Linked DNA regions of Homo sapiens. Changing the gene in region 1 together with any one later gene gives a genetic interaction. Each region holds a gene or a part of one and is shown on either strand. Other genes may lie near its edges.

Region 1 (3,500 bases):
TAATCCAAGACTGCAAAAGCAATTGGCTGTTGCAAGAAAAAAATATATATTTTATATATATATTATATATATATAATGACAAATTGGTTTCCTGAACATTGAAAGGAAAATAGTTGTTTTCTTTATCAAATAAAACTTTATAAATAGTATGTCACTGTTGGAAAGAAAATGTATTGTGGTATTTAGGAATTAAGTCCGTCTAAGTAGATATGGTATAAGAGCTGGATTCTGGTTTTCTCTGGCTTAAACTTCTCTAAAATAAATGAATAATCAGCCCTACACAGGAAGGACATTTTAAGATAAATAATAACAAATGATCTGATTTTATTATAAAATTATAGATACATTGAGAATTCAGTGAGAGTGTAATATCAGCACTTATCAAAAACTTACCTGAGAAATTAAATGTAAATTGTATTTACCTGAGAAACAGGTATAGAAAGCTCTTGCATGACATTCTTTATATAGTTGGCCCTCTGTATCTGTAGGTTCTGCATCCATGGATTCAACCAACCGCAGATAGAAAATATTTGGGGAAAAAATTGCTTTCTGTAGCGAACATGTTCAGACTTTGTTTTCCTATCATTAGTCCCTGAATAATGTAACAACTATTTATATAGCATTTACATTGTATTAGGTATTATAAGTAATCTAGAGATGATATGAAGTATATGGGAGGATGTGTGTAGGTTATATGGCAACACATTTTATATCAAGGACTTGAGCATTCGCAGATTTTGGTATCCTTGGGAGGTCCTGAACCAAGCCCCCACAAGATACCAAGGGACAACTGATTGCATTGAAGCTTTGGTTGGGCTTGAACAGTTTTAAAAACAACCAAAACATTACATTGCTATTACTTCTGCTGCTTATATTAATATTTTAAAAAGGAATGGCCTCGTATATCAAGGGTCATGTAAGTATTTTACCTTGTTAATAGCTCTTTTGGAAACTTATCCAAAGTAAGAATACAAAAGAAAGAAGTTATAAGCACAAAGCTTCCCCTGCCCAGATTTGTTTTAAAATAACAAAAAGTTTGACGCAACCTAAATGTCTAACAAGAAGGGAAAAGCATAGCTTCTAAATGAAAACTAATTTGATCATTTAAAATGTTCATTACAAAGATTATATAGAATCATGGGGAAATTCTTAAGATATAATGAGAGCAGGATGTAAAATTATATGTTAAAATGTATGTGTGATAGGGAAAAGTAGAAGGGAAAATTCAAAAATAAAAAATAGTAATTTGGTTAGAATAGTGATTCCATGAATGATTTTTTTTTCCCTTACATCTCAACCATATTGTGTTTGTTGTATGTGTGGTTTTGTAATGAAATAGACCATGTCAAGTCCTATTTAGGAAACTAGACCAATTTTGGCTGGTATTGGATTGGCCCTATAGGTACGATATCAGGTCTCACAACTTTTGGAAATGAGATAGGCCAGAAAACCCCATTTACCCTCACGCAAATAGTTAAGATTTAAAAATCGTTAAAATCTGTTGATTTAAGAGCTTCTCTTTCTGCTTATTAGTTTGTTATATTGGGATTATGAGAATACATTCTTGATTACTGCATGTCACATTTATGAGTGTTTTATATCCCAGAGTGGCTTGGGCTTTTTTTCTTTCTTTTTTTGTTTTAAAATTCTTAGACATTCGCTTCACAATGAGATTATATTAAAAGCCATGTAGAACCTTTGGATATAAGGATAAAGTAATGTTTAATTTTTTTTTTTTTTTTTTTTTTTTTTTACAGGAAAGAGCTGATCCTCTCTGGCACTTTAAATCCAATTAAGGATTTACATCTGGGAAAACTCGCCTTAACCAAGTTTCCAAAGAGTCCAGAAACATGGATTCACAGGTGTGGTTAATTTACAACATAGTACTCTTACTTAGGATTCAGACTGGCTGGAGAAAGAAACATGACATGTGAGAGGCAAGGTTACTTATTGGTTCCAGAGCATGAATTCTGAAGTCAGGTTACCTACATTTAAATCTAGGAGCTATATAACTTGCTACCTAAGTGTTCATGGGAAATTACTTAACTCACCAAGCCTCAGTTTTCTCATTTGTAAAATGAGAATAATAATTACACCTGTCTCATATAGTTAACAGTCAAGTTTACGTGAGTTAATGCATGTAACACTCCCACAGTGCCTGGCACATATTAAATACTCAATAAATGTTAGCTATTATTAACTCTTTGAAGCAGTTGTGGGCATTGCATTTATAGATACTCAACTGTAATGAGCAATATGGATTTTAAAAGCATTTGGTTGTTTTCCTGGTAAAGATGTTGGTGGTGATGGTTGTGGTTATTAAAATTAACTTACAGAGAAAGCTGAGGGCAGCTGAAGCGAATGCTGTGTAGGCTGAGCTAAAGTTGCTAAAATCCATACATACAAAGAACATTTTTAGGTTAAAAGCATGGGACAGATAGCCAGAATGCACTTTAGGACTCTCAAAATCCTGGCCACCTGGAACCATCTTCCTCTTGGACCCTGTGTAACTACTCTTATTTGACCAAAATGGGATGGTGTGGGCTTGCTAGTCAGGACCAATGAAGAAGTCACTCTGAAATTCTCAGTTTATTAAGCCACTCTAATTTTTCTTAAATCGTGGGCATTTTTAGGATCTTATGTCCGTTCCAGGTGTCTTAGTGGTAATCGTGCCTTTAGTTAACATTGCAGGTCAGCTTCTTCCAAACCACATAGTCAGTTATATTTTCTTCATCACCAGAAATTGAGATAGTATACCACAGAAGGGTATATGACTGTGTGTATGGGGGTTTGGAAAGGGATGGTGGCAGGGGAAAGGAACTGTTAAATATGCATCCATCAGTTTGGCTTGTCTAATTTTTTTTATCAAGCAATATTTTGTTGTTAAATAAGAAATTCCATTATTTTAAAATGACAAAGTGAGTTTTCTTACTTAATTTCCTGTACCTTTGGGTTTGAAATCTTTAGTCTAAAAAATGCTTTTATATAAGTAAATTACTGGTACAAAGTAAACACATTAAGTAGCTCGAAACACTATTTAGTGTTTTTTATGTAAATACATGTTAATGCAAATCTTAAACAGACAAAGGGAGAATTTGTGGATAAGGATATTTTGACACCTTCTTAATGGTTTAATGAATTATATTTGTTACCTTCCAGATTTTATGCTATAATACAGAATTTTGCTGAATGAAAGCTATCAGAATGCAGCTTCTTGTTTGCAAACAAATGCACATAGGGTGAGGCATGCATATATACTTAAAGATGTGAATCATGACTCCTTATAATATTTATCAGCCATTAATTTATGACCTCTCACCACGACCACACACACACACACCAATTGCCTTTACATTTCCTGGCCAAGTGGAGTTTTGGGATTGTCATTTTAGAAGTAATGACATTCTCTGTATTACAGATTTTAAAGTTTTTTTTTTTTCCTGTTTATCCATTTTCCACCCTTCATCCATACTGCTAAATTAGTATCATCATAAACAACA
Region 2 (3,500 bases), on another chromosome or scaffold:
TGCCTGAGTCCAGGAGTTGGAGACCAGCCCGGGCAATACAGTGAGAACTCGTCTCTACAAAAAATTTTTAAATAATATAAAAAATAAAATATTAAAATTCAAAAAATAAATTAAGTATATATCCAAATGTGGGATGATATCTAAGGCAGTATTCTGAAGGAAATTTATAGCCTTGGTTACATTAAAGATGAAAGGCAGGAAGGAAGAAAACTAATGAGTTGTATATCCATCTTAAAAACTATAAAAACAGCAGAACAAACCCAAAGAAAGCAAAAATTAACAAAAGAGGAAATAAACATACTAGAGAGGATCAGCATAACCAAAAGTGGTTCCCTGGGACAGATATAAACAACATTAGGCCATCAAATTTTAAAATGTACAAGATACTGAAATCTATCAATTGCACAATACTTATCGTGCAGTTTATTGCATGTGAATTATACTTCATTAAAGCTGTTTTAAAAAGCAGGCATTTAGTGCAGTGCCAGAAACAGGGTAAGGATTCAATATATGCCAGATACTGATATTCTTCACACAGTATGCATGATCAAGCATTGGTTTTTGCAGGGTTGGTATGAATAACTAATGTTTGGTTGCGTTGAAAGTTTCAGCTGTGACCCCTACATTATTTTCCTGAAATTAAATAAGTATAACCCCTCAAAATGTGTATGACATTGACAAATTCTTGGGGAAAAAAACGTAACTTACCAAAAACAGATTCAAGAAGAAATGAAAAGCCAACTGAATCAATAGTTAAAACCTTTCAGTAAGAATACCCCAGGTCCTGATGGTTTTAGCACAGAGTTCTAGCAAACGTTCAGGAAATAAATAATCTCAGTCTTACACCAATTAATTAACACAACAGAAAAAGAAGGAATACTTTCCAATTCATTTGATAAGGCTAATATAACTGTAATACTAAAACCTAACAATATCGCAGGCCGATTTCGCTTATAAAATAAATGCAAAAGGTTAGGTGTGGTGGCTCATGCCTGTAATCCTAGCACTTGGGAGGCCAACACAGGAGGATCCCTTCAGCTCAGGAGTTCAAGACTAGCCTGGCAATATAGTGAGACCTTGTCTCTACAAAAAATGAACAAAATTACCTACGCATGGCGGTGTGTGCCTGCAGTCTCAGTTACTATTGAGGCTGAGGTGGGAGGATTGCTTGAGCCTGGGAGATTGAGGCTGCAGTGAGCTGAGATCCCACCACTGCACTCCAACCTGGGCGACAGAGTGAGATCCTGTCTCAAAATAATAAAAATAATAATAAATAAAAATTAAATTAACTAAATAAATGCAAAAATCCTAAAGGGAATATTAGCAAACTGAAAGTTAAGTTTGGTTTTATATTTAAAAGTATCAACTGGAGCTGGAGCTAGGTGCAGTGGTGTGCACCTGCATCCCAGTGAGTTGGGAGGAGGAAGTGGGAGGATTACTTGAGCCAGGAGTTTGGGGCTGCAGTGCACTATGATCATACATGTGAATAGCCGCTACATTCCAGCCTGGGTAACACAGCAAGATCCCATCTCTATTAAAAATAAATAAATAAATTGATTTATTAAAAATAAATAAATTGATTTGTATACTATATTAATATTAAAGAAGAAAAACTATATTATCTCCAAGGGTAGAGGAAAAAACATTGCTAAAATTCAACATGATAAAACCTCAAACTAGACATTTATGGGAACTTCCTTAAACAAATAAAAAAACTATAAAAAACCTAATGTAAAATCATACTTAGTGAAACAAAGTATTCCCTCTAAGACAAAGAACAAGATACAAAACTGGTCGTTGAGTCCTAGCCAATGAAGAAAAGGATTTTTTAAAAGATAAAAGGGCTAAGAAGAAACAAACTGTCATTATACACAGATAATTGTGTTGTTGAAAATCTAAATTTATGTCCAGAAAAACATGAAGATTAAGAGCCATCTAGATTGCTATGTATGTACACACAAAAAAACAACAAAAAATACACCAGCAATAACAAAGCAAAACATTTTAAGGAATACCACATATAATTGTTTCAAAAAATATAAACTACTTAGGAATAAATCTAACATAAAGTATATAAGATCTTTATGGAGAAAACAATAAAATTTTAATGAAAGACACTACAAAATATGTTGAAATTATATCCCATTGGTGGATAAGAAAACTCAGTATAGCAAAAGTGCTGACTCTCACCAAACTGTCTATATAGAAGCAATTAATTCCCAATAAAAAGACCAACAGAGTTTCTGTGAAACTTGATGAGCAAATCCTAAAATGCATACAGGAGTGGAAAGGTCCATGAACAGCCAAAACATTTCTGAAGAAAGACCACAAGGTGGAAGAAGCTACCCTATCAGTTATCAAGACACATAAAACTACATTAATTAAAACAGGGTGGCACTGGCACAAGGATACACAAATAAACCAATAAAACAGAATTAAGTGGCCAGAAACACACTAATGAATACTTGATATATAAGACAGGTGGTACTGCAAATTGGTAGGGACAAGAGACTCTGTTCAATAAATGATGCTAGAATAGCTGATTTCCCTATGGCAAAAAAAAAAAAAAGAAAAAGGGAATTGAATGCCTATCGCACACTATAGAAGACAATACAGAAAAATATCTTTATGATCTCAGTGTAAGGAAAGATTTTCCAAGACACAAAAAACACAAGCCACATGCCATCTACATTAAGAACTTCTATTCATTGAGATGCCATAGACAGAGGGGAGGGGAAAAACCAAGGTAAAACTGGAGGAGGAAAAGAATTTAGAATTTAGAATATATAAAGAATGTCTATGAATCAAGAAGAAAAAAGACAAATAATCTAACAGAAAAAAGTTGATAAAAAAGACTTGACACTTCCAGAAAATGAAAGTTCAATAGTCAAATATCTGAAAAGATCTTCAACCACACTAGTAATGAAGGAAATAATATCAACGACAAATCTGATCAGCAAAAAGTAAAAAGTCAAATTGAAAATAAAAAATGTTGGTGAAAATGTGGAGCAAAAGAAGTTCTTAACCATAGCTGGTTAGAGTATAAATTGGCACAACCTCTGCAGAAAGCCACTTTGGCATTACTAGTGTAGCTGAACATTGTTAAACCCTACAGCTCAGCAATCCCATTTCTACACATTTCTAGGCATCTCAGGACATTGGTTCTCAACTGGGATGATTTTGCCCTGCAAGGGACATTTGGCAATTTGTGGAGACATTGTTGGTTGTCACAATTGGGGGTGCTACTACCACCTAATGGGCTAAGAGGCCAGAGATGCTGCTAAACATCCTACAAAGAACAGGAGGGCTTCCCACACTATTGAATTAATTTGGCCCAAAACACCAAGTCTCAAGGTTGAGAGGTCCTACCCAAGAGAAACAATTTTTATAACTCCTGTGTATTATAACCAGTTCTAATTCATTTCCCTGACAACGAGGTTCCCTTTAGGTCCATTCTTTCTAATTAAATGCAAGCTGCTTTCTTTAAAAGTACAAAAATA
Region 3 (3,500 bases), on another chromosome or scaffold:
GGTCTGATGAAACCCTGGAAATTCCAATCCCCTGTCAGGACTGAACAGGAAGGCGGCCCCAGCCCTCTGCACAGGCATGTGGGGAACTCGGGCACCAGGAGGTTCTTCGCACCCTGTTTTGAAAGCTGTGATGCGAATTTGTGGTGTTTATCGTATTCCAGCAGCAGTTTAAACAATTGTTACTTTAAATACCCAGCTAGTAAGAACATTTTCCCTTTCTTGTTGCTACCTCTGTGGGATTCAGCCATAAGATTCAGCTCTCTCCTCTTAATGAGTCTTTGTCATATTTTGATGTCCTTGAATGTGTCCTGGGGCTGTTTCAATGTCCTGGGGAGGGGTGTTGGTGCAGCCTCTGACACAGAAAGACCTATGTTAGGGAGTTGGGTTTCAGAGGCTGTGGGCCAGGTTATACACTAAGGTCAAGTGTCCCCACGGGCCACTGCCTTCCCCACAGTCTTCCTGTTTGGCAAGACACCTCCCCATCAGTGTCAAGGATTCCAGAAAACGTGTGTCAGATGAGGAGGGGTTGTCTTTCCTGCTTCAGCCAGCCTCCGGGCATTTTTGAGAACATGTTTCCCAGGCAGAGGGTACTTTGACAGAGGAGTCCATCAGTGTCTTCTCATTAGAGAGGAAAGAGAGGAATGAAAAAAGACTGTGCTGGGGTCAAATGCAGGAGGCCAATGGGAAAATCAAGAAGATTGTGTGGACCCTGACACTGCAGCCTCCTGCTTGGCCAAGCCCACAGCTGTGCACAGTGGCCTGGCTGCTGGGACCATCAGGCTCAGAGGCCAGGCGGAGCAGGGGGAAAGCAACTACATAACTCCCCAGGACCCAGTGGGTGGGCAGAGCCCCCCAGGGCAGCTTGTCATCCTCCCCTGAGTCTGCCTCTTCTCTAAAGCTAGGACACTAAGACTTCTTAGGGTGCCGTGAAGACTAAGTACCTAATACACGTAGACTCTTCACACAGCACCTGACCCACAACAAGCACTTCTTATCATTCCAGATTGTAATCTCAGAGCCCTAGATCTGTCCTGATGATGATGTCTCCATCATCATCATCATTGTGTGTTTACTGCTTTCTTTGTTCATCCAAGGATGGTCCCAGCTACTCTGGAAGCTGAGGCGGGAGGAACTCTTGAGTCCAGGAGTTTGAGGCTGCAGTGAGCTGTGATTGCATCACTGTACTCCAGCCTGGGTGACAGGGTGAGACCTTGTCTCAAAATAATAATAATCACTACAACTATTATAAATAATATTGTTATTCCGGGGAAAATCTACTTGGCGTTCGCCCCTGCCCAGGTGCCATGCTAGACATTCTGGCTCTGTTCTCCCAGTAACCAAAGTGCTGTGTGGCTTGGTGTGAAGTTGCCTCATGCAGACTGGGGAATTTTGCAGACTAGAAGTCAAAAAATCTGTGCTCTATTTCCAGCAGTGTGGCCCTGGGTAGTTTATTTTCTCTGAGCCTTGACTTCCCTTCCATAGAATAAGGTGATTGGACCTTTGGGACTTTTGGAGCCAAAAGGGACTCTCCTCCATAGACAATGCACCGTCTTCCCTACTTTCAGATCATCTGGGGGGCTCCTGCCAGACAGAGTTTGAACCAAGGGCAGGCAGCAGCTGGCCCTGGAGTCCATGGCTGCTCCAGATGGTTCTCTTTATCATCACTTACAGGTTCTACATGTGGGCAGTTCTACAGCTATAGGTTGGTACAAAAACTGCAGTTACTTTTGCACCAGCCTAAATCACCATCACCTACTATGTGCCTACCAAGAGCGTGGCACTGGACTGGGCACAGAGGAGCCGGTGCTGTGCTTGCTTCTGGGGAGATCTGTGCAGAGGTGGATTGTAATAGCCTTTGTGCACTGGCTCCTCGGGGCACCCTTGGAGCCCTGTGGGAGCAATGCAGGACCCACCTTCCTTAAGGAGGGTGTCCTGAGCTAGAGGAACTTCTGGGATTTTCTTAAATGTTGGGGGAAGAAAGCTTAACCTGAGAGGAATGGGTTTTACGAAGGAAGTGAGGAGAGGAGCTAGAGGAGAAGGAGAAGGCAGAACAGGCAGGGGAGTAGGAAGAAAGTGAGACAATGAGGCAGCCAGAGCCGTAGCCACTGCCTGGCGCACCGCAGAGGATCCATCAGCGTTTGCTGGATGAATGGATGACGATGGGTTAAAGCCAAGGAAGACATGGGGTCTCAAGGGGAAGCTGCCTTTTAGCACGAAGAGAGCCCAGCAAAGTGCCGGTCCTGACAGTGATCTTGTCCAGACTCCAGAACACTGGAGACAGCGGAACAGCAGAACACGGTGCCTGATTCAGTGAATGATTTCTGCGTCCCAGGGGTTAAGGGTTTCTATCGAGCTATCTATGCTGCTGCTAATTTCTCTGATAGATGTGTTAGATACGGCATTTGGGGAAAATGGAGTACTCATCTCAGGGGATAATGACACTGTGAGCGCCATATTATTTCTGTGGTGAAGAACAATTTTAAGCCTGTGCTAATAGATTAAGCGACTAGAGTGATTATTTTGAACAAAGAGAGTGGTTGAGAGTTCTACAGCCAGCCTGAGACTAATCAGGAGGAGTAAAGAGTGATAATTTAATCATATCAACCCATAACATGGGATCCTGATAGTGGCTGTCACACTACACCAGCTGAAGGAGGTCTCTGAACCACCCAGACTAAGTTCCAGCTTTTGCTACTTTCTGGCTTTTTGACCTTACATAAGTCACGAGGCCAGGAGGAGCTTCAGTGTCCCCATTTGTAAAATGGGAACACAAATGCCCAAGGCATAAGACATTGTGTGTAAAGAATCAGGACAAGGCATGGGAGAATGTTCAGTAAACTGCAAATGGCTGGGTGGATATTGGGTGCCGTGGGAGCAAGGAAGGAGGTGCATGGTTTGTAAAAACTGCATAAAAGCAAACAGAGTGTGATCATATACCATGAAATGCACAAAGGGGGTGCACTCTGCAGAAAGCCCTATGAACCCCTTCTGTAAAGCAACCCACTCTCCCTCCTTCGTCCTCTCTACACGTTAGCTTTTTGTGACGTGGACATCTGTGTGGGCAGCGTCTGCAGGGCCAGCAGAGCCACTTGTGAACACTGGGGAGAGTGTAAAGGAGGCCCAACAGGAGGCTGCAGGGGACCTTCAGGAACCCTGCGTGTCTTGGACGCTCAGTAACACGACAGGGCAACAGCGTGCCTCCCTGTCACATTTGTGCACACCAGGAAGCCTGCTCTTCGCAGGACTTGGGAAATACACATCACCATTGCCTCCATCGCTTTTTCTGGTGAATTAAGCCCAAAGAATGACATTGGAAAACTTTTTTGTACTCTGATAATTAGCAGTGGATGAATTTCATGGGGATTCTGTTGGACAAACCCTGGAGGCTAAAAATTGAAAAAGCAAAACAAAATAAATGGAGAAAGGTTATCTTTAAATAGATTTAATACTTAGAAAAGATACTGTGGGCAAATAAATAAATATTTAGAGGACTAATGAGA
Region 4 (3,500 bases), on another chromosome or scaffold:
TTTTAATAAATTATCTTGCCTCCTTTGTTAGTACTATGGCAGATAATATGATAAATGGAGCACTTGCTTTTATTGATGAATTCACCATTTTCACTCTTGTTTTAGGTTTTCACTCTTTTTTTAGGTTTATTAAAATTTCTTAAAAAAAAAAACCAACAAAGTGCCATTTATGGAAGGTTGCTCTAAGTTCTCAGGGTCATGAGGAACATAAAAACAGCACTAGCCATTTTGTATGCCAGGCACATTGCTGTGCACCATTATCTCATTTAGTTCTCATAATAATTAAGTGTAGACACTTACTATCCTTAACCTTGTGGTTGAGGAAGCTGGAATTTAGCTCATTAAGAAACTTGCCCTTTGCTAGTGATGTGGATTAAAAAAAAAACTTGTCCAAGGTCATATAGCAGTTAGTAGCAGAGCTTATCGGCGAAAGAGGTCCCTTGATTTCCAAAACCTGATGTGATGCCAGACTCACAGAAGCTGTCTACACTGTCAGCCGGGATAGCCCAGCTGTGTCATCTCCATCCCACCTTCCGGCTACCTGAGTCTTGAGTTGCTGTGGGTCCTTGTCAGCATTTCTCCCTATCTTTTTCTTGCTGTGTCCCACTCTTACATTCTTTTCCAAGTTCTTAGGAGGTTGTCTGTAGGTGTGTTTCATCAGGTACCTGGTACTGAATTGGCATTAAAAAAATTTTTTTATTGATGCATAATTTGCATAGTTTGGGTGTGCAAGTGATAATTTAATGTATTCATATAATTTGTGAAGATCAAATCAGTGTACTTGGGATATCCATTACCTTAAATATTTGTCTTTTTGTTAGAACCAGTCAAATTCTTCTCTTCTACCTATTTTGAAATACACAGTAGATTATTGTAAACTATGGTTACCCTACTTATCTATCTATCACTAGGTCTTATTTGAATAGACATTTAAATGTCATAATGGTGAGCAAATATATCAGGCTAACATCTGTATGACAGTGAAACAAAGGATTGATTAATATCTTTACATTGTAGTGATCAAAGAAGGAGAAGACTGCTCATCTACAAAGACTACAGCACATCTCTTCTAGCTATTTACTGTCACATTGAGGCAGCTATGGAATTAAAGGATTTTCTAAGGAACCTGCTTAATCTAGTCATCCCATCAGCATGTCAGCACGTAGGCTTCGTGAAGGCAGAGGCTCTCTGCTAAACCACTGGAGCCCACATGTAAAGCAGTTCTTGGCACTTAGAAAGTACTGAATAAATATTTGGGTTTTTGTTGTTGTTGTTTGAGACGGAGTCTTGCTCTTTCGCCCAGGCTGCAGTGCAGTGGCGCGATCTCAGCTCACTGCAACCTCCACCTCCTGGATTCAAGCAATTCTCCTACCTCAGCCTCCCAGGTAGCCGGGAATACAGGTGCACGCCACTATGCCTGGCTAATTTTTGTATTTTTAGTAGAGACAGGGTTTCACCATTTTGGCCAGGCTGGTCTCAAACTCCTGATCTCAGGTGATCCAAAATGCTGGGATTACAGGCGTGAGCCACTGCGCCGGGCCTGAGTAAACGTTTGTTGAATGAAGTATCCTTTAACTTGATACAGTATAGCTCTTTTGATAAAGGTTATAATTGAATGCTAGTTCATCATTTACTGAAAATACTACAGTTTTGTTCTAGAGATTTCATATTTCTCTGGTAGCCTGTGATATGGATTCTGTTCATATTAAGATATTTCGTTGTTTTTCTTTTTTCTATTTACAGATCATCTCTGGGTGTTGTTTCCAGATGTCTGTATGGTAATTGCATCAGAAATTGCCGTGGATATTGTAAAACATGCCTTTATTACTAAATTCAATGACATTACTGCAGATGTATGTATTTTGATATGCACTTCAATGTTTAAAGTTTACTTCTGTTGCTTAATTTTTAAAAGTTGTAGAATAATAGGAGTTTGTTAATACTTTAAGGTCAGAATTGTAATTTTAAGTTTCTAAAAATTATTACACTATTGAAAGTATTCTGTTTTAATATTAGGCAATGATAATTCCATATTCTTGGGGTAGAAGTATAGACCAGCCAGTAGTCGAAGTCACAGTGTCACTAACTCAAAATCATTCTGATCAGTTAACACTGTCATAATCTGTTTAAAGACTTTAAAATCACATTGTTTCTATTTTAAAACTTAGACCATCAAAATTTTTCTCTCTGGCTAGGTTTTTAAAATATTTTATATTTAAAAGTTGATTTTTTTCCACGATTATGAATAGGTTCCTGCTAAGTTTTAGAAGACGAGAGCCTACATTTTTCTGGTGAAAGTGTTTAAACTTTGAGAAATTTGTTTTATGTTCTAACCAGATGTTCTGGATAATTTCTAGAAATAGATATGTGGCTATAGATTTATTGCATATAAAACATAAGAAAGTTTCCTAATGTAGTTCTCATTCCTGTCTCAGTCCCAAAATAAATAATAGTTCCACAGTTTTCTAGATTTTACTGGGTAGTACTTTTAATAACAGTCTCACAGTAATATTTGTTTTGTTTCAAAAGGCAATTATTTAAAATAAAATGCAGTTGCAACAACTGTGATTCAATTATGAGTTTCTGAATGTTTTAATATACTTAAAGTAAATACAGTTTTGTACTTTTTTGTAAAGCATTGATAAAGTAATTTCACCATTTACTTTCTCAGCTTTCTTAATGCAGAATGATTCCCTTTTCATAGGATCATTTATTTAGCATCTGAAGTCAAAATTAATAGGCTTGATTGAGACACTTGTGCACTTTTTAGTGGTAATGATCATTCACAAGTGCCTTCATATTTACTATGTTCCCTAACTTAGTTTTATGTCTTTTTCAGCATTCATTTTTCTCAGAAGGCATTATTATGGTTAGACAAACAGTAATTTTTTTAAACTATTCATTTAATTTAAAATTTCAAAATTATTTTATATACATTACACTACTTAAAATAGTCACTTTTCCCCAAATTCTAAACTCTCAGGATCATAGTCGTTGGATATTTATTCCCCTTTAAAGAAAAACCTTTAGAAGATCTATGAATGTTAACAGTTCGGTGGAATTGAGGTTACATTTTACCTTTACTGTAGGAAAACAAATAAGAAATTATGCCCAGATGTCAGCTTGGTTATTAGCACTTGTTCCTGGTTAATTATTAAATGTTTTTATTAATAAAGTTGCAGTCTTTCCACATTATATATTTTTACTGTATTACTTGATATTTCATTCTTGTTTGTTTTTAGGTCTACAGTGAATATAGAGCCAGTCTTGCTTTTGACCTTGTTAGCAGCCGACAGAAAAATGTGAGCATTTATCAAGGGCGTAGTCTGAAATTAACAAAGGCATAGTCTGAAATTAACTGAATAATGATTAATTTAGCATGAAATATTAACTAAAGGAAAGCTACATAAACTGCCTACTGATCTCTATTCTCAACACTAAATAAACATTTACAAATTAAGAATAATAGTAATACTTAACATTAAGTAGTATATGCTCTT
Region 5 (3,500 bases), on another chromosome or scaffold:
ATCCTTTTAGAACTGAAAGCCATCCTAGAGATAATCTAGCCCAACTTAGGTTTTGTTCTGTTTTGTTTTTTGATTGAAAAAAAGTTAAGAACCAAAGTGACTTAAAATGTTTCAATCTCCAGATATTTACTGACAGAGGGGTAGGTTTTGTTTTGTTTTTTGATTGAAAAGAAGTTAAGAACCAAAGTGACTTAAAATGTTTCAATCTCCAGATATTTACCGTCGGAAGGGTAAAGCTAGAACCCAGTTCTCCTGGCCTCTCATTATGGTAACAAACAAGAACCTGAAAAATGACATACCCTTGATCCATTCAGTGAAGATTATTGTGTCACCAAGTTATCTTCACCAAGGGACAGTTGCCCTTACATCAATCTCAAGAGATTAAAAACCTCCAAAATGTTCCGTTTTCCGTGGATAACCTGTAATGGGTCAATGGAGTATATGGGGTTGAACCTTACAAAATTGCCAATACTTGATTAATAAAAATGATAGCTTATTATGATTCTTCCTAATTGTAAAAGATGTAAAAAAAAAAAAAAAAAAGGACAAATGTGAGACACTTTCAGTTACTCTGTACTTAACCATTTTATCTTTACCTGTTTTCATAGTAACATTTTCAGTTGTTGGTATCTTTTTGAAGTTCTTAAACTTACTCTCAGCAAATGTAACATAGTACTTCCATTTATTTGTTCTAAATTTAACTTTTTGGCTTCCTCCAGTTTTCTATTTGTAGTGTTCTAGAATTTGGGAATCTCTCACTTTATTTTTTTCATAGTTTTATAGACTGACAACCCTTTGGCCTTGTAGTGTTAAGTCTTAATCTTGCCGGGGATTTTTCAGTTCCCATCCTTGAAAAAATACATTTAATAGCGTGAATTCCAAATGTATATGCAGAGCTTTTATTTGGAAAAATTGACAAGCAATTTAGTGATTCCTGTAAATGTACCACATATTCATGAGTAGTTTATCAGGAAAAAAAAATGCAGCATTGGTCTTCACTACTAATGTCATCGTAATGGTGTATGATATATTGGGCTTTTTAGATGATGTATACAGCTTGATTTTTGCTCCTATAGATTCTAAATTAGGAAGAAATCAGGTCTTAAGAATGAACTAATTTAATATTTTGTTTGCTTATTCCATGCTCAAAGGACAAAGATTTGTTTGAAATTCCTGTTCAGATTGAAAGTACTGTCCAGTTGTATTGTGTTTAATGGTTTTAATTTTTCCTCATTTTTGGATAGTTTTATATAAGGTGTAGCTATTCTGAGGTTTGTATCATCAATCTAATACAGGTTTTCATTTCACCTGAGCCTGGCTTATGAGGTCAGGCCAAAATTTTTTCTGGCCCTTTTAAATATACCATTTGGTCTGTGATAATTTTATGTATGTGTATGTATTTATACGTGTCTGTATATACGCACATATATTTGAAGTGAGTTTCAAATCAGAAAAAGCTTTCAGAGTTGGTCGAGGCGATTTTTGTGCATACTTCAGGTCTTTGTTTAAAAAATTTTTTTAAAAGATTGATGTATTGTGAGGGAAAAAATTAGAAATAACAATTTCAGAGGTTTATTGACCCAAAATAGTTTTGGAATGTGTGATAAACCAGAAATGAATTAGCGTGGGTTGTTGAATTTCATATTCCTTCAAAAGGATTTTTCCGACCTAGTTTAGGTTTGCATGAAATGGATTAGAATTATCTTGCTGAAAAGATTTCTCCACAGTTAAAAAAAGGCCTTTTAATCAATTTACAGAATGACAGACTAAAAAAGTCACAAATTTAAAATATGTATTAATTATAAATTGGACATTACTTATTAGTTTTTTGACTCATTTCTGCTTTTGTTGAAATAGTTTCTTCTGGAAAGTTAATTTATGGAAAACAGACTTCTTACTGACACATTATTTAAACAGTTGGAGATACTGCCCTATTTATATTTACCAGAAATACTGTGTTACTAGAACTTTTTATCAGCATTGGAATTTTTGAAAAACATTTTCAATGGTAACACTAGAAATCTTAATGAAAATGGGGGATGATTAGAATTTAACATGTAGCTTTTAATACTCTGGAAAGCTGTACGTTTTTATTAAAATAGAAATTTCTGTAAAATTAAAGCTTTTAACATAAAGCTTTGATTTTGAACTATAAATATTCTGAGAGCTTTATGACAGTTATCCACACTATCAGGAGTATCCTAAAAATGAGACTATGCTACACTTACATATATTAACAAAAACCTCTTGGGTATGGTCTAAGCAATACCTTATAAACTGTGCTTTTTCTGAAAATTTTTAATTTTTTTTTCCTGATCGAAATCTACCATTCAGGTGTAAATATGTATTATATCTGGCTTTCACTAAAACTTTATTATTAAATTTATTTTCATTTTTTTCTTTTATTGAGATGGGGTCTCACTCTGTCACCTAGGCTGGAGTGCAGTGGCACGATCTCAGCTCACTGTAGCCTCTCCCTTCCTGGCTCAAGCCATTCTCCTATCTCAGCTTTCCAAGTAGCTGGAACTACAGGTGCATGCCACCACACCTGGCTAATTTAAGTAATTTTGGTGGAGACAGGGTTTTGCCATGTTGCCCACGCTGATCTCAAACCCCTGAGCTCAAGCAATCTGCCTGCGCCTGCCTCCCAAAGTGCTGGGTTTACAGGCATGAGCCACAGCACCTGGCCATTATTACTAAATTTAACTGAATATATTTAAATTTACATTCTGCTGATGGGCAAGTTTTACAATATTTTATGTCCTAATGAATAGACTTTTTCTTTATAATCATTTTTTTTTTGCATATTTCCCCTTCCAGAACCTTAGGTCTTTGTTGCAAATAATTGTGATTTTAAGCACCTCATATGTAATCTTATAAAGTACTTGAATGTTTACCTTGTGGAATCTTGTCTTTTTTCCCTAGGCTTTAATAGTAAGCATAAAAAATTCATGTTCTAAAGAATATTGAGAAATTTTAACACTGGAACATTTAAAGGAGTTAGGGGATTTAGATTTCTGAAACTTCTGTGACTGCTGTCTTGCAAGAGTTCCCATTATCTTCCCCCGTCGAAAATGCTTACCAATGGTTGGTTGTTGTTTTCTCTGGATAATTGTGCAGTACCTGATGGCAATGTATTCTTCATAACTGTTTGTTTATTTTTAAGGCCATGGTAGGGGAGGAGTGTGTAGGTGCCATCGTTTGCAAGTTGGATATGCACAAAAAGATGTTCCGCAGAGGTTATATAGCCATGTTAGCCGTGGATTCCAAATACAGGAGAAATGGCATTGGTAAGAAAAATATTATTTTATGGAAAGAATGCCTAAGCTATTTTCATTTTTGTTGTGTTTTGAAATAAAAGACTTAAATGTAAGTATGTAGAAATGAAAGAAACTAAGGGAAGAAAATTAAGGCGGGTTTTAATTTTTAATTTCAAAATGGTATTTTTAAAAAGTTCTTAAAATGAATTTTTTCTTTATTAATGTTTTGTTTGACAGTTT
Region 6 (3,500 bases), on another chromosome or scaffold:
GAATATTGAGTGGTGAAGCAAAATTAAGAACATTTATGAGCACCTCCTCTGTGCCATATACAAATACCTGACATACATTATTTTTTCCCTAACATTGCAATCAACGTTTAAAAATAACAGCTTCATTGTGATATAAGCCACATACACAGAATTCACCGTTTTAAAGCACAATTCAGTGGTTTTTAGTATATCCAGAGTTGTGCCACTTTTACCACTAATTTTAGAACATTTCCATAACCCTGAAAGGAAACCTCATACCCATTAGCATTCACTTTCCATTTCCCTATCCCCTCCGCCTCCGGCAACTACTAATCTACTTTCTGTTTCTATGCTTATTCTAGGTATCACATATTTTAAAACATGCAATATGTGACTTTTTGTGACTTTTTTCACTTACCATAATGTTTTTAAGGTGCACCCACGTTGTAGCATGGACATATATTACTTTTTAAACCCTTACTACAATCTTACAAGCTGGGCATATTTATCTCCATTTTACTGACAAGGAAACTGGGAGGTTAAATGTTTTCCCTGAGGTCTAACAAAGTAAGCCGAGAAATATTCAGACCCAGGCCTCTGTCTTTATGGTTCACCATTTCGACCACACCACAGATTCTTACCTGCATCAAAATTCACCGTATGATTTTTTTCTGACTACAAAGACCCAGAAAAGGCAACTTCATAGTTTAAAAATTGAAAAATACAATGCTTTGTAGTACCCCACAGCTGGCACAACTTTTTTGCTTCCTGTCTCCATGTTCACTCATGATATATTTGTGTCCAAGGGCAAGGTGACCTGCTATTCCCATGGGCTCCCATGACAACCCCACTGTTTTTGAAACTGTGAGCACAATGCAAACCCAACAGAAGGCTGGGGCGGGCAGGGAGCACCACTGTGTGTTCTTTCACACAAGAGGGTATTCTATATCTCAGATCAGCATGTAGCTTAGAAAGAAGCTCAAATAAGAAAACAACAAACAATGAACAGAACCAGCCTTTAGTTCAGTGAGGAGACATTAGAGTCACTCACTGGTATTATGAGCCTAAACCAGAGGCAAATTTGCGGACATCCCAGTTCAGGGCCCCATCTGCTAGGCCTGAGGTACCAAATCTAATTGCCAGTGACTTTATCTCTAATCGCTCATTCTCATGGCTCGTTTACCTTCTTGCCTCCAATATATCCTCCAGAAGCACCAAAACTCTTTGTGAACGTTCCCATCATAACATCCACATCCTCGGGATCCAGGCCAAAGTACTCCACCACACCCCGGCCTGTGGGGCCCAGGGCGCCAATGCTGTGAGCCTCATCCAGATACAAGTATGCCTTGTATTTCTTCTTGAGGGCAATCACTTCAGGAAGACGAACAATAGATCCCTCCATGCTGGCAAAACATGAAAAAATATATATATACACATATACACTGAGACTTTTTAAATCAAAATTGGGAGTTTGGCACTTCATTATTATTGAGTTTACTGCTTCTTTTTTTTTTCTTGGGACAGAGTTTTGCTCCATTGTCCAGGCTGAAGTGCAGTGGCATAATCTCGGCTTACTACAATCCCTGACTCCTGGGTTCAAGCGATTCTTGTGCCTCAGCCTCCCAAGTAGCTGGGACTAGAGGTGCCCGCCACCACCACGCCCAGATAATGTTTGTATTTTTAGTAGAGATAGGGTTTCCTCATGTTTCCCAGGCTAGTCTCGAACTCCTGGCCTCAAGTGATACACCCGCCTTGGCCTCCCACAGTTCTGGGGTTACAGGAATAAGCCACCCTGCCCGGCTGAGTTTATTGGGTTTTAAATGGTCTGACAACTGTATCTGTGGCTTAAACTGACAAAGGTAGATGAAGCCATGGCAAGGCAAAAGACTAGGGGAAAGAAAACTGGACTTTTAAAACAAGCACTGGCTGGGCGCGGTGGCTCACACCTGTAATCCCAGCACTTTGGTGGGCTGAGGTAGGCGGATCACTTGAGGTCAGGAGTTCGAGACCAGCCCGGCCAACACAGTGAAACCCCGTCTCTACTAAAAATACAAAAATTAGCTGGGCTTGGTGGCACACACCTGTAATCCCAGCTACTCGGGAGGCTAAGGCAGGAGAACCGGGAAGCGGAGGTTGCAGTGAGCCGACATCCCGCCACTGCACTCCAGCCTGGGTGACACAGCGAGATTCCATCTTAAAAAAAAAGCCACCCAAACCACCAAAAAACAAAAAACAAGCACCAAACACAAGCAATCTTAATTCACGACAAAAATAATTAAGGTCACAGCAGATTCTTCTAAAGCTTGTAATTACAGGCAACATGAGACTTTGCATCACGTTGCACAGGCAATTAAAATGACACAAAAGAACAAAAAAAATTAGGTGGTAAAAATACGTGTAAAAGCTGTAAAGGTTAACCAAAATAAAATATTTCTTTTTAATTTTTATTTATTTTTTACAGAGACAGGGTCTCACTATGTTGCCCAAGCTGGTCTCAAATTCCTGGCCTCGAGCGACCTCCCACTTTTGCCTCCCAAAGTGTTGGGATTACAGGCGTGAGCCACTGCACTCAGCCTAAAATAAAATATTTATTAAAATTAAATGGTGTGTAATTTGTTTTGACATATTAAAATATATATTCCAATTCTTGCCCCTACATATAGGTTCCCTCTACAAACTAGAAAAATAAAAGACTCAAATAGAAAGGGGATTTGGTGACCATGTAGTATTATGGAAAGAATAACGAAGAACTAGACAAAAAGACTTCTGTTCTAATGCTGACTCTGTTTCCAGGTATTTTAGCGACTTATAAACACTGTCTCCTTAGTTTCCAGAGGGGGATAGACTAATGTTCCCTTCAGTTAAAAAATTCTATGACTTCATGGGGCCAAGTCACAAAGGTAAGAATAATAAAGCAGGATTACCTATATATTCCTTCCACAAGGATGAGAATTTTCTTCCAGGGCCTTCGTGTCCGAGGCTGACCATAAACAATGGCATCTTTCAATAGCTTCTCTAGGCTTTGCATATCTACAGAGCACAAAAAAGAACAGTTATACCGCATCTTCCTCTTTCCTAACTTTATTCCGGAAATGCAGAGATATATTTCTCATTCAGAAACCATGCCTCAGATAGCAAAGGACATAATTAGAGTTGGGCAGAAAAAAGCAGGGCAAAATAGGTGAATTATTGCCACCTTGAATTGAAATCCAAAATGTAACAAATGTTCAAAACCATCGAAACTTGACTAAAGGACGGTGGTGGCTAACTCAGTTCATTAGCTTCCTTATAAAATGACCAGTGTCTCATGTTAAATACCCTGCCATTAAGTTAGCTTCTGTGTGTTTATCGAAAAATACAGAATCAAACTGTATCTCTAATCCCAGTGAGTCATTCGGAAATAAATGCGTAAAAAAGACAGAGCGAGAGAGTGTGAATAAACCATCACAGACACATACTCCTCCTAAAAAAACAAACGCAAGGCGTAAAAAAACTTCACAGTGCGTGCTCCATTTCCTTTC
Region 7 (3,500 bases), on another chromosome or scaffold:
TTTAAATTAACACATGGAAATAAAAATGATTTATTTTGTTCTTGTTGTTTTTTTTAATAGTTATTTGGGATTTGATCATGCTGCAACATTATTTCACATCCGAGACAGCCCTGCTGATCCTGTGGAAAGGCCAATTTACCTTACTAACACTTTCAGTTTTGCGATCCTCATTCACGATGTGTTGCTACCAGAAGAAGCCAAAACAATGTTTAAAGTATGTCCAGGAGCCCTCATACTTTTAATTTTCCTGGTCTACCAACTAGGTGATGCTGACACTTTGTTTTTTTTCTCTTCTGTCATTTCTCAGGTTCACAACTTCAGCAAACCAGTCTTAATTCTTCCTAATGAATCAGGATACATTTTTACCCTGCTTTTTATGCCTTCCACATCATCCATGCACATTGATAACAACATTTTACTTATTACCAATGCTTCTAAATTTCATTTACCCGTGCGGGTATACACAGGCTTTTTAGATGTAAGTATATTATCCATCTTTAACATTTAAACTCCCTGCCCACCTTTAATGTTTTCAGATCTTATTAGGCAGTCGTGTTACATACGGTTTGCCATTATTTGTGCTCTGCAAATTGATCTAATTCTCCTAGTCAGTTTTTACCTTTCCAGGTAACTAGTTTTTACCTTTTCTGGCAGCTCTCTCTTGTGATACAGTTGACTTCTCTAGTTACAGTCTCTACTTAGATCTTTTCCACATTCTGCTTTCTCTTGGATATGCTTTTAAACTATTGTAATAATGGGGAATATAGAAAAGAACTAAATAGAAAAATGATAGGTAGAAAAAGAATAATACAAGGAAGGTGAAGAGGGATATACGTAGGGAAGAGATGATCAAAACCAAGAAATATCGGGACAAAGAAGAGAATCAGATAGTAAAGAAGAAAATAAGGTAGTAAAGACGCAAAGTTGGAAGATTATATATGACACAGAAGGAAACAATGAAGGTACTCCTGGTACAGAAAATAAGCAGGGGGAAAAATTCCAAACAAAGCTATCTTGAGAGTGATCAATGAAAGAAGCTTAGATAAGAGAGAAAACTGTTAGGAAAGATAAAAAGAAAGCTAGGACATCTAGAAATGTAGCCCTTTAAATAGTTGGCATCGATTAGAATTTTAGAGCTGGAGGGACCTTCAGTAATGTCTCGCTCCTGCTTCAGTTATTTTGTTTCAGTGATCATTGGTGATGCTTGCTGAGACCACATGCTTTTTGCCCGATCCCCTAGGGTTCCACTAAACCTCTCTTAGTAGTTTAGCTTCCTGCCTCTTTCATGTGCCCTCAGAGGAAGAATAGCAACTCAGCAGAAGCCATGGCTGTTTTCATTTCTGATTACTCAAAAGACTTTCGTCATACAAAGCCCTCAACTATGTCGTATAAATGTGTGGTTTTATGCATATATACAAAAGCATAGGAAAGCATAGAACTGTAATTTTTTTTTTTTTTAGATGGAGTCTCGCTGTGTTTCCCAAGCTGGAGTGCAGTGGTGCAATCTTGGCTTGCGGGTTCAAGCGATTCTCCTGCCTGAGCTCAGCCTTCCGAGTAGCTGGGATTATAGGTGCACACCACCATGCCCAGCTAATTTTGGGGGGAACTTTAATACATCTTTAATATAGTTACTTTCTCTTCATAATATTGTTAGATCAATGTGACTTTTTTTTAATCTGGTTCTTTTATATCTTTCCAGTACTTTGTATTGCCCCCCAAAATAGAGGAACGTTTCATAGATTTTGGAGTACTGAGTGCTACAGAAGCAAGTAATATTTTATTTGCAATTATAAACAGCAATCCAATTGAGGTAAAAACCTGTTTTTATTCTAAATCACATTTAAGGATTTTATGCTTGTGTTGTGATAATCATTTTCATATCTTTTTTTAAAGTTGGCTATAAAAAGTTGGCATATCATAGGAGACGGTTTATCAATAGAACTTGTAGCTGTGGAAAGAGGCAATAGAACTACAATAATTTCAAGCCTGCCAGAGTTTGAAAAATCCTCTTTATCAGATCAATCATCGGTAAGTAAACTTTCTATTGTCTCCTTAAAGTAAGATGGATGTCTAAACTGCAAGTGGAAGATCATTGCTATGCTACATGTATCACTATTATTTTTATGCAGTTCATAATAGTGTTGGTTACTTGCTATTAAAAGGACCTTATAGGTAATGTAATTCAACCCCCTATTTTTATGATGAGGGCACTGAAACCCAAAGGGGTTTAATTCTGCCTTGTCATAAAAAGTTCTATAACACACAAATTTTTAATTATCTTTTTGTAACACAAGTGTCATTACAGGAGAGATTCCCATGGGTACTAAACTAACCTTGTGTTCATTGAGTTTACTGGGAAAAAGAGATGGCCCTGAACATTGGTAGAAAATATTTTCAATTATGCAATAATACGTCTGTCCAGATACTGCCTCAGTATCAGTGAGGCAAACATTGTTTGATCACTGTGAGTCTGCCCACATATTTTTACCTGTCTAATAAACATGTTACAGTTGGTTGTCAGAGAGCGCTAAACAAGAGAAAACAAATTTATTAGTTTCAGCACTCACCAGTACTGAAAGGGGAACTTGGAGTTTATACCTACTGGGAAAAGAATTAGAATCACAATCTGTGAGAAGGAGCATCAGATAATCTCATCTGCAGGTTAGAATAGAATTTCTTGGGGCAGTTTTACAAAAGGAAAAGCAAGTGTCCTTATACACAGAGAGTGTTGACAAACACGTTTCCGTGGAATGCCATAGGTCTGGTGTTTTGTTATATCTGACCTCAGCTGCCCTGAAGATATGAATATTAACATTACAGAGTGACATCCACAGCTTGAAGCAGAGCCAGCTGTGTATACAATTGTGGCTCCAGTGTGCCTGAAAGGTTGGTGGAAGGCTGTGTCCCTCTGCTCCAGCCCCTTTGGCCATACAGGTCCATGGGTAAAGAGTGAGGAGCTTTATTAGCAAGAGGACCACACCCCTCCCTCTTTCAGGAACCAGCTTTTTCAGTGGCCCATGGAACAAGTGTAGTAGAGAAATATCAAGGGATGGACACTATTTTGAGATATTTGTACACAGTGATATGGTAATTCAGTGTCATACTGGTATATGTTAGGATTTGTTAGTCATTTTATCGCTACACCCTTCATGTCCATTTTAATAGGAAACTTCAACTAACAAGGCTAATGAATGATACCATTTCTACTATCTACAGGTAACATTAGCTTCAGGCTATTTTGCAGTCTTCAGAGTCAAACTTACTGCAAAAAAATTAGAGGGGATTCATGATGGAGCCATCCAGATCACAACAGACTATGAGGTAAGGACTTTATGGGGATTCATGGCAGTGGGGTTTTTCTGAATAAGTCAGTCCTTTCTTGTCTTTATGAAACCAAAGAATTAAGTTTACTCAGAGTTACAGTTTACCAGTTTCATACCTTAAAAACTGAGCTTTCGAGAATAGTTTATAGAATATTGATGTTCATAGGCTCATAGTTT

Evidence for each region.
Region 2: of PTAR1 (region 1) and GOLGA5, changing one suppresses a phenotype caused by changing the other (phenotypic suppression), as found in Homo sapiens cells (one study listed by BioGRID).
Region 3: changes in PTAR1 (region 1) and ZFAT are lethal when combined (synthetic lethality), as found in Homo sapiens cells (one study listed by BioGRID).
Region 4: changes in PTAR1 (region 1) and TAPT1 are lethal when combined (synthetic lethality), as found in Homo sapiens cells (one study listed by BioGRID).
Region 5: changes in PTAR1 (region 1) and NAA30 are lethal when combined (synthetic lethality), as found in Homo sapiens cells (one study listed by BioGRID).
Region 6: changes in PTAR1 (region 1) and SPTLC2 are lethal when combined (synthetic lethality), as found in Homo sapiens cells (one study listed by BioGRID).
Region 7: changes in PTAR1 (region 1) and TMEM131 are lethal when combined (synthetic lethality), as found in Homo sapiens cells (one study listed by BioGRID).

Annotation. Positions count from the first base shown.
Region 1 is NC_000009.12:69,732,512-69,736,011, reverse strand, and holds part of PTAR1 (protein prenyltransferase alpha subunit repeat-containing protein 1), read left to right. Parts: intron 1-1,757; coding exon 1,758-1,862; intron 1,863-3,500.
Region 2 is NC_000014.9:92,800,805-92,804,304, reverse strand, and holds part of GOLGA5 (golgin subfamily A member 5), read right to left. Parts: intron 1-3,500. UniProt on the Homo sapiens protein: Involved in maintaining Golgi structure. Stimulates the formation of Golgi stacks and ribbons. Involved in intra-Golgi retrograde transport.
Region 3 is NC_000008.11:134,482,532-134,486,031, reverse strand, and holds part of ZFAT (zinc finger protein ZFAT), read left to right. Parts: intron 1-3,500. UniProt on the Homo sapiens protein: May be involved in transcriptional regulation. Overexpression causes down-regulation of a number of genes involved in the immune response. Some genes are also up-regulated.
Region 4 is NC_000004.12:16,174,472-16,177,971, reverse strand, and holds part of TAPT1 (transmembrane anterior posterior transformation protein 1 homolog), read left to right. Parts: intron 1-1,017; exon of another isoform or gene 1,018-1,288; intron 1,289-1,743; coding exon 1,744-1,853; intron 1,854-3,242; coding exon 3,243-3,302; intron 3,303-3,500. UniProt on the Homo sapiens protein: Plays a role in primary cilia formation. May act as a downstream effector of HOXC8 possibly by transducing or transmitting extracellular information required for axial skeletal patterning during development. May be involved in cartilage and bone development.
Region 5 is NC_000014.9:57,393,586-57,397,085, forward strand, and holds part of NAA30 (N-alpha-acetyltransferase 30), read left to right. Parts: intron 1-3,166; coding exon 3,167-3,290; intron 3,291-3,500. UniProt on the Homo sapiens protein: Catalytic subunit of the N-terminal acetyltransferase C (NatC) complex. Catalyzes acetylation of the N-terminal methionine residues of peptides beginning with Met-Leu-Ala and Met-Leu-Gly.
Region 6 is NC_000014.9:77,554,138-77,557,637, forward strand, and holds part of SPTLC2 (serine palmitoyltransferase 2), read right to left. Parts: intron 3,010-3,500; coding exon 2,904-3,009; intron 1,383-2,903; coding exon 1,163-1,382; intron 1-1,162. UniProt on the Homo sapiens protein: Component of the serine palmitoyltransferase multisubunit enzyme (SPT) that catalyzes the initial and rate-limiting step in sphingolipid biosynthesis by condensing L-serine and activated acyl-CoA (most commonly palmitoyl-CoA) to form long-chain bases.
Region 7 is NC_000002.12:97,810,949-97,814,448, reverse strand, and holds part of TMEM131 (transmembrane protein 131 precursor), read left to right. Parts: intron 1-60; coding exon 61-214; intron 215-307; coding exon 308-478; intron 479-1,699; coding exon 1,700-1,810; intron 1,811-1,893; coding exon 1,894-2,028; intron 2,029-3,216; coding exon 3,217-3,321; intron 3,322-3,500.